Linked DNA regions of Homo sapiens: region 2 is linked to region 1. The links come from fine-mapping of genetic effects on gene expression. Tissue or cell type: testis. Region 1 holds a variant in brackets; the other region holds the start of a gene. All regions are shown on one strand. Distances are from middle to middle.

Evidence for each region. PIP is the estimated chance that this variant, and not a neighbour inherited with it, causes the effect.
Region 2: GPRIN2 starts here. The variant in region 1 is fine-mapped to the expression of GPRIN2 in testis (GTEx, PIP 0.99).

The regions. Positions count from the first base shown.
Region 1 is chr10:46,656,545-46,660,872 of GRCh38, reverse strand. No RefSeq gene overlaps it. Among named protein-coding and RNA genes, the nearest start is that of LINC02637, 29 kb to the right of the region's middle. The variant T/C (reference allele first, on the strand shown) is at 2,327.
Region 2 is chr10:46,554,634-46,558,961 of GRCh38, reverse strand. GPRIN2 (G protein regulated inducer of neurite outgrowth 2) reads left to right here and starts at 2,304. Exons shown (of 3, transcript NM_001385282.1): 1 at 2,304-2,464; 2 at 4,267-4,328. RefSeq lists enhancers at 857-1,562, 2,268-2,973.

The DNA.
Region 1 (4,328 bases):
TGATTTGAGCCAGGCAGTAGCAGGTAGAGGTGGAGAAAAGTGGTCAAACCCTGAATGAACGTTAAAGATAGGACCAAAAGGATTTGATGAGAAATTGGAAGTAGAGCACAGGGAAAAAGAAAGATATCAGTGATGATGCCAAGGTTTTTGGCCTGGGGAATTGGGATAGTGGAGTTGTTATTTGCTGAGTATGACTTTTCACAAAGGAATGTCAAGGCATAAGTAGCAAAGTTCTTTTTTTTTTTTTTTTAATTTTTCTTGATTGTGTTTGTTTTGTTTTTCATCTTTTGTGGGAGGTGGGTGGAGATGAAAGCAAGCACAGGGGTTGGCAGGCATACCCCTGGCACCTACCTGTGAGTTCATGATTACTAGTTTTAAAGTTCAGTCCTTTTTATTTTTACTTTTTTTTTTTTTTTTTTTTTTTTAGAGACAGTGTCTCACTCTGTCATCCAGGCTGGAGTGCAGTGGCACAATCACGGCTTACTGTAGCCTTGATCTCCCAGGCTCAGGTGATCCTTTCACTTCAGCCTCCTGAGTAGCTGGGACTACAGGCACATACCACCCTACCCAGCAATTTTTTTAAAAAATTTTTTGTAGCGACATAGTCTTACCATGTTGCCTAGACTGGTCTCGAACTACTGAGCTGAAGCAACCTGTCTGCCTCAGCCTCCCAAAGTAAAGTACTGTAATTACAAGCTTGAGCCACCGTGCGTGGCCAAATTCTGGCCTTTTGATGTTGCATGGTGTGGATGGGGAGGCAAAGTGTGATATTTTAGGAATTTGAGGATTTCTTCTTCGACCTTAGGCGTGACATTGGACAAATGACATCTGGGCTGAGACATTTTCTAGTAATGCTGGATCCAAAAAACTCTTATCCCATTGTCTCATAGCTTCATTACACAGACCTGGCGGCCATGATCCTCTTTTTTTCCCCCTTAGTTGCCAAACATGGGTTCTCTGTCTTACCTCATTTGAGTCTTACCTCAGTCTTGAGAGTCTCAAATGTGTATCATAGTTTTTAGACAAAATTCAACCTTATTTCAATTAGTATTTCATTGTTATTTAAATATTTTAACAGGAAAACTGAGCAATGTTTCCCTTTACCTGTTAATCCTGTTATAATATTTTAGATAAAGTGTATTAGAAGGCACATTCTTCATTAATAGAATATTTATTCATGTGTTTATATGGTTCTTAACTAGGAATACCATATAGTCTATCTCCAACCCTTTGAGAAGGAAAAAAGATCCTGACTAAACAGGACACCAGAAGGGCATGCCTAAACTAGGACTGTTCTGGGCAAATCAGAAGGCATGTTCACCTTATTCTTTTTATTCTTTCTTTTTCTTTTTTTTTTTTTTTTTGTGACGGAGTCTCGCTCTGTCGCCCAGGCTGGAGTACAGTGACACGATCTTGGCTCACTGCAACCTCCACCTCCCAGGTTCAAGCGATTCTCCTGCCTCAGCCTCCTGAGTAGCTGGGACTACAGGCACATGCCACCATGCCTGGCAAATTTTTTGTGTTTTTAGTAGAGACGGGGGTTTTGTCGTGTTAGCCAGGATGGTCTTGAACTCCTGACCTCATGACCTGTCCACTTCGGCCTCCCAAAGTGGTGGGATTATAGGCATGACCCACTGCACCTGGCCTCACCCTATTCCTAAGGCCAGAAAACCAGCTAGAGTAAAGTTCACTTTCTGTTTGAGTGCTTGGACTTTATTGGGAGAAGGCAAATGCCCTGGAACAAGAGTGAAAGGGAGAAATTCCCGTTGTATTGCAAGCCAGAATAAGAGAGGCTCACCCACACTGGCCTAAGGCATCTCAGTTGTTGATGAGAATGTGATTACAGATGTCTCACATGAATACCAAAGACAATTGCAAAGGAAATTAAAAGTTATGCAAAGAGAGTCGAGAAGTCAGTTGTCTGCTCACAGGTTGGCTTTAGTGGCTATTACTTTGAGATACTAAATGAGCGATAGCTTTAAACTTCAACTGCTTTTGTTTCTGAGGAAAAAAATCATCTTATATCCTTTCATAAGTCGCATAAAAAGTGGACATTTTCTATTATTTTAAAGAGTAAATTTAGGTACAAGCATTTACTAATTTTTTTTTTTTTTTTTTTTTTTTTTTGAGATGGAGTCTGGCTTTGTTGCCCAGGCTGGAATGCAGTGGCGCAATCTTGGCTCACTGCAAGCTCCGCCTCCCTGGTTCACGCCATGCTCCTGCCTCAGCCTCCAGAGTAGCTGGGACTACAGGCGCCCGCCACCACGCCCAGCTAATTTTTTGTATTTTTAGTAGAGACGGGGTTTCACCCTTTTAGCCAGGATGG[T/C]CTCGATCTCCTGACTTCGTGATCTGCCCGCCTCAGCCTCCCAAAGTGCTGGGATTGATTACAGGCGTGAGCCACTGCTCCCGGCCTGTAATTCTTTTTTTTTTTGAGACGGAGCCTCGCTCTGTTGCCCAGGCTGGAGTGCAGTGGCGTGATCTTGGTTCACTGCAAGCTCCGCCTCCCGGGTTCACGCCATTCTTCTGCCTCAGCCTCCCGAGTAGCTGGGACTACAGGGGCCCACCACCACGCTCGGCTAATTTTTTGTATTTTTTAGTGGAGACGGGGTTTCACCGTGTTAGTCAGGATGGCCTCGATCTCCTGACCTCGTGATCCGCCCGCCTCAGCCTCCCAACATTTAGTAATTCTTAAAAGAGTTCAGCATGAATATACACAGTACGTGGGTTATTAGTACTGTGTTGTTAACACAAATGAACTATGATAGCAAATTGAATTTGGTTCAATCAGGTCAAAGAATAAAAGGATGATTTTCTTTAACCACCAGCAAAGGATAGTATAATGAACCCCATGCAACTATCACTTAACTTCAATAATTTCAAGTTTGAGTAAGTTGCAGAGTAGTAATTTGAACCCACATCTCTCTTGTTCCAAATCCCTTGCTTTTAATTACAATCCCATGTGGCTTCTTTGTCATTTGATGCTATTGAGCAACTTTATGATTTTTTTGGTGTTTTTGGTAAAATAGACATGAAAAGGCATTACTACAGGGAGTTTTTTCACTCCCTGGTAATAAGAGGGGAAAAGCACTCTCTTTTAATGATACATGTTTTGTAATAAGCATTTTTTTTAGTTGCAGTGTTCTGCAAAGACAAAACCTGCTGATACAGTTCATCCTGTTTTAGAAATCTTTGACCCATTCATCAGACTCTGACCACTCTAAAGATAAAGGATTATGGTTGTATTGGTTTTTCCGACTGAAGCGGCCTTCTGCAGATTGAGAAATTGTATAATTATTAACTGCGGTAATGGAGATGTACTTGCAAGTTTCATCTGGTATCTTAATGACCTTTAACCCTCTGAGTACACCTAAAACATATCCTAGAATTATTGAAATTAATCAGTTGTCCATAACTTTTCTGTCTGTATAATTTGGCTATCATACGTATTTTGTTTCCCCCTGCCCTTGCCAGTTTCCATCCTCCTACTCACATACTCACAACTCCTATAAATTGGAGTATTTAGTAGCAGTAGCCTTTGGTATAAACACTTTTTAAAAATTTACTATTTTTTGAATTAATAGGGCCACTTTCTAGTCAAGTTTTTTTTTTTTTGGGGGGGGGGTAAGGAGGGTAGGGTAACAGTTCCACACTTACAAGGGTATTTGTTTAGACCAAGCTTGTTCAACCCACAGCCTGTGGGGCTGCATGTGGTCCAGGATGGCTTTAAATGCAACTCAACATGAGTTTGTAAACTTTCTTAAAACATTATGAGTTTTTTTTGAGAATTTTTTTGAGACAGAGTCTCGCTCTGTTGTCCAGGCTGGAGTGCAGTGGCCCGATCTTGGCTCACTGCAACCTCCACCTCCTGGGTTCAAGCGATTCTCCTGCCTCAGCCTCTGGCGTAGCTGGGATTACAGGTGTGTGCCACCACTCCAAGCTAATTTTTGTATTTTTAGTAGAGACGGGGTTTTACCATGTTGGCCAGGCTGGTCTCAAACTCCTGACCTCAAGTGATCTGCCCACCTCGGCCTCCCAAAGTGCTGGGATTATAAGCATGAGCCACCGCGCCCAGCCTGCGATTTTTTTTTTTAAGCTCATTAGCTATCATTAGTGTTAACTGTATTTTATGTGTGGCCCAAGACAATTCTCCTTCTTCCGTTGTGGCCCAGGGAAGCCAAAAGATTAGACACCCCTGATTTAGACAAATAAGTGAAGGCACACTGAAATAACAGTTATATATAATAACCTTGTGCCACCCAGCGCGGTGGCTCATGCCTCTAATCTCAGCACTTTGGGAGGCTGAGGCGGGCGGATCAGCTGAGGTTGGG
Region 2 (4,328 bases), 100 kb after region 1:
GAGTCTCAGCAAATGGTAGTTGGCCCATGTGGTCCTCAGGCCTGAGCTGCTCTCTACCAAAGCAATCTACACATATCCATCCCTTCCTTCCCCCATGCAGTGCAGCTTGTACCTCCAGGACCTGACCCAGGAGGAGCTCAGTAAATATTTGATCAAGTGACTGATAGCAGCGATAACACTCCACGGGACACGTTCACAAACACCCTCTTCCCCCAGCCCTGTTAGGTAGGTATAATTACTACCACTCTGCAGATGAGGAAACTGATGCCCAGAGAGATGAACAGTTTTGCTTGGGTGTGGGGTTGCACAGCCAGTGAATATGTGGGGGAGTTGAGATTGGAATTTAAGTGTGACTCCCCATGCTGGGTTCTCCCTGGACAGCTGCCACAGCCAGGGGAGCCTCCTTGCCAGGGCATGAATGGAAGAAGGGGGCCAGTTGGACAAGGAGTGATGCCCTGGGGTGAGGGCCAGCCAGCTGTGTTCACAGGTAGATTGCATGGCAGACATCTCCTGACACCCAGCCCCAAGAAGGCTTCCTTGAAACACACAGTGAGGTTCTTGGTTCTTGAGATGTCCTGGGAGCTGAGAGCCCCAGGTTTGGGGCCTGGATCTGGCACCAACTCTCAGTGTAACCACAAGCAGTCCATCCCTTCTTGGGGCTCAGCTGACTTCACTAAAGAGGGAATATGAGTAAGATGCCTAAGATGTGGAAGCAGAGGTCCTAATTCCTGGACAGGGGCAGAAGTGGGTAGTGGCCTCGGCAAACAAATCCCCTATTTGCCTCCTTTAAGCAGGATCCCCCTACCAGGCAGTGTGTGATGGTGAGGCCCAAGCCTGGGGTCTGACGTCGACACCCCTGTGGGCATTTGGCCAAAGGCAGCCATCTGCCAGAATCTGAGAGCTGCTCTCAGACCTCGCTGGAGAGGGCTACCTGGGGCAGTCTGAGTCTCTCTGGGCAGACTGAGGTCCTTTGCTACCCAAACGGGGAGAATTAGAGATACTGTTGGCTCCTGGGCACTGGAAGGGAGGAACGCAGGCCTCTCAGCACAGGGCTGGGCCAACAAGTTGGGGGTCCCGGCACAGGGGACAACGGAGAAGTGCCAACATTGGGACCCAATTATGTGATACTGGGGCCCAGAGATAGTACAGGTGCCTCATACCACGTGGCCCTGGGTGGACAGCAGGAATCTATTGCGAGTGGCGGGAGGCCGGGGCTGCCTGTCCTGCGCCCTGAAGCTGGCCAGCGGTTGTGGAAACTGGGGGATATTGAGGGAACCGTAGGCCCAGGTCCTCAGCCTCATAGTGTGGAACCTGGCGATCCCAGGGCCTGGGCTGGCCCCCGGCGTCACGGGACCGGGAAGGCGCTGTGGTGCTGCGGGGAATTGCGGAGAAGAAGGCGGGCTCCAGTGGAGGTGGCTCATCCCCGCACGGTCACTGCCCTCGCCCGCTGTTGGGGTCCGCGGCTGGGAGACTGAAGGCCTCAAGTCGGGCTGGGTAGGGGCACGTGGGCAGGGAAAGGGGTGGTAGATTACCAGTCTTCAGGGGCGGGGCTGGAGATGCAACCCTAGGGAAGGAGTCTACCAGGCTGGGCTCTTGAGGGGCAATGGAGGGCTCCGGGGGCCAGGCCAGGCCAGGATCATGGAGTTCAAAGGACTGGAGTGAGGTTTGGGGTCCATGAGAGTGGAGCTCAGAGGATGGGACGGTGGGTCCAGGATTTGGGACCTGGGGCTGGAAAGTCCGAGGCTAGTGGAGACCAGGCCTGGTATCCCAGACGAAAGGGCCCTATAGGAAACGGGGTCTCGTGGGCGGGATCTGGAGCCAGAGAATTGTGAGAGGCGGAGCTAGGATGGAGAAGGCGAGAGGAAAGGGGTAGCCGCCGGCGCGGAGACCTCAATGCGGGGCGTGGTGCGGAGGGGGAACTGGAGCGAGGGGCACTGGAGCGAGGGGGTGGGGCTACGAGGAGGTGGACTTGAGGGGCTGGGTCTGGGGCCGGAGAATCGTGGGGAGCTGCGCCTATACACCCGGGACGGTGGGGTTGCGTCGGGGAAGTGGGAGTCTTGGGGGTTCGCTGGGCAGCCTGGAGAACAGGCGGTCGTGGTGCGGGCGGGGCCGAAAAGACCGAGGACAGTGGGGACCCGGCCTGAGGAGGGGTCGGGAAGGAGGGGTGGGGGCGCGCGGACGCAGATCCCGGGCCGCGGCGGGGCGGTGGCAGGCTCCAGAGTGGCACGGGCCCAGGTGAGCGAGGTCTCCGCCCGCCGCCCCTCCCGCCGCCCCGGTGCCAGCTGCCCCGCTGGCCCCTCCCTGTACCCGGCGCTTGCTCCGCGGGCCGGGCCGACGGCGGCGGGCGGCGTCTCGCGCCCAGGCCAGGTCGGCTCTGGCTCCATCTTGGGCCGCGGCACCTGGCACCTGTGGCGGCCGCAGGAGCAGCGCTTCCCCCGCCTGCGCGGCCCCGGCGGGCGAGAGGGTGAGAGGCTGGCTCCGCGCGCTCCCGTTGGGGCGGGGGGCGTGGTGGGCGGCACCTCCCCCTTGCTGAGCCTCAGAACCCACTCCTTCCCGCTGCCTGCGCTCAGACCCCCGGCATCCTGGCCCCTGCCCAGCGCCCAGAGCCCCCGGTGGCCGCATCGCACTCCCCGCGCTCCGCCTCTCATTGTCCTGTCCTGTCCCCTCTTCTACGTCTCCTCTGCCCATCCTCCCATTTTCACAAGTCTGTCCGGGACCCTGTCTCCTTCGGCCTCCACCCCTGCTGCCATCGCTCCTCCCTCTCCCCTTCTTCCTTTTCCCCTCCCTCAGCCTACTGCGCCGCCTACCCCGCCCCCAGCCTTGCTGCCCTTTGGCTTCTCCTGTCCCGCATCATTACCCCGGCCCACAGCCCCATTTGCCTGCAGTCGCTGCCTTTGCTCCTGAGAAGGTCTGTAGCCTCGTTTCGGGCCCGTATTGAGCCCCCTTCTCCCTAAGTCCGGGTGGGCTTTGTGCAGGAGGGGCGGGAGGGGAGCTATTCTGGGCGAGGCTGCGTGGTGCGGTGCTTTCAGGCCTTTGGCCCCGCAGCAGGGGCGGCCTGTGCTTGGCGTGCAGAGTGCAGCTGGGTAGACGCTGTTACTGCATACGGGCCTGTGTGTCCCAGGCTGGGGCATGAGTGCTTGTGAGCGTGCAGATAGGGACACACCGGCCGCCTAGGCTGCTTCTAGGCCGGGGCACCCTCTCCACCTAGGTGCCCCCCAGGGATTGTGGGCAAATCCTCCCCAGGGGAGGAAGCTCAGGGGCTGTTGGGCGCCTAGGCCTCTTCCTGGTGAGCAGAGCCTCATCCATGGGGCCACTGACCCCACAGTTACCCCAGAACCCTTTCCTGGCACAGCTTGTGACCCGGGGCATGTAGCCCTTAAGGCACGTTCATTGTGAAGGGCAGGTTTTGTCTCCTCCAAACCCTCCCTTTAGGAATGCTGCCTGCTGCTTTGCCCAGAGTTGGCCCTGAGTGTTCCTATCAGGCCCCGTTCACTCTGGGGTGGATTAAACCACCTCCTGGAGGGTGCTGTATCCCCACTGTGCAATGGGGGTTTGTGCTGTGTGCATTCCTGCCTGGTCCTTGAGAGGTAAGGTCCATATTTTAACATAGAACCAGTTTTCCTGCCTGATCATATAGGTTTGCTTTTCCTGTTTTGGTTTTGCCGGACACATAAGTCATCATCCAAATGCTTGCCACTTAACTAGAGGGGACTTGGGCCAGGCGCTGTGGCTCATGCCTGTAATCCCAGCACTTTGGGAGGCCGAGGCAGGTGGATCACCTAAGGTCAGGAGTTCGAGACCAGCCTGGCCAACATGGCGAAAACCCCATCTCTACTAAAAATACAAAAATTAGCTGGGCGCCGAGGTGCACGCCTGTAATCCCAGCTGCCGGGAGACTAAGACAAGAGAATCACGTGAACCCAGGAGGCAGAGGTTGCAGTGAGCCGAGACTGAGCCATTGTACTCGAGCCTGGGAGACAGAGCGAGACTCTGTCTCACAAACAAACGAACGAACAAAACCAAGAGGGGACTTAGATGGATGCCACAGTGTTGTCTGAGATGGAGCCCACTTGTGGTGGTCTTGGTAGTCCCCTGGGCATATCCCAAAGGCCTGGGCTCCTCTGCTGTGGCAGCATGGCGGGAGCTGGACTCTGTACGTTGACTCAAAGGTCTCTATGTTTGGGCTAGTCTGGAAGTGTCTGAGAACTGGGGGCTTTTACTCAAAATGACATTGGTTGATTGCTACATAGGTGGTTGATCTTCCAGTTGCTGACAGGTGGAACCTGAGGCAGCAGGACAGCCTGGCATTGGCCACGGGACATCGGCCA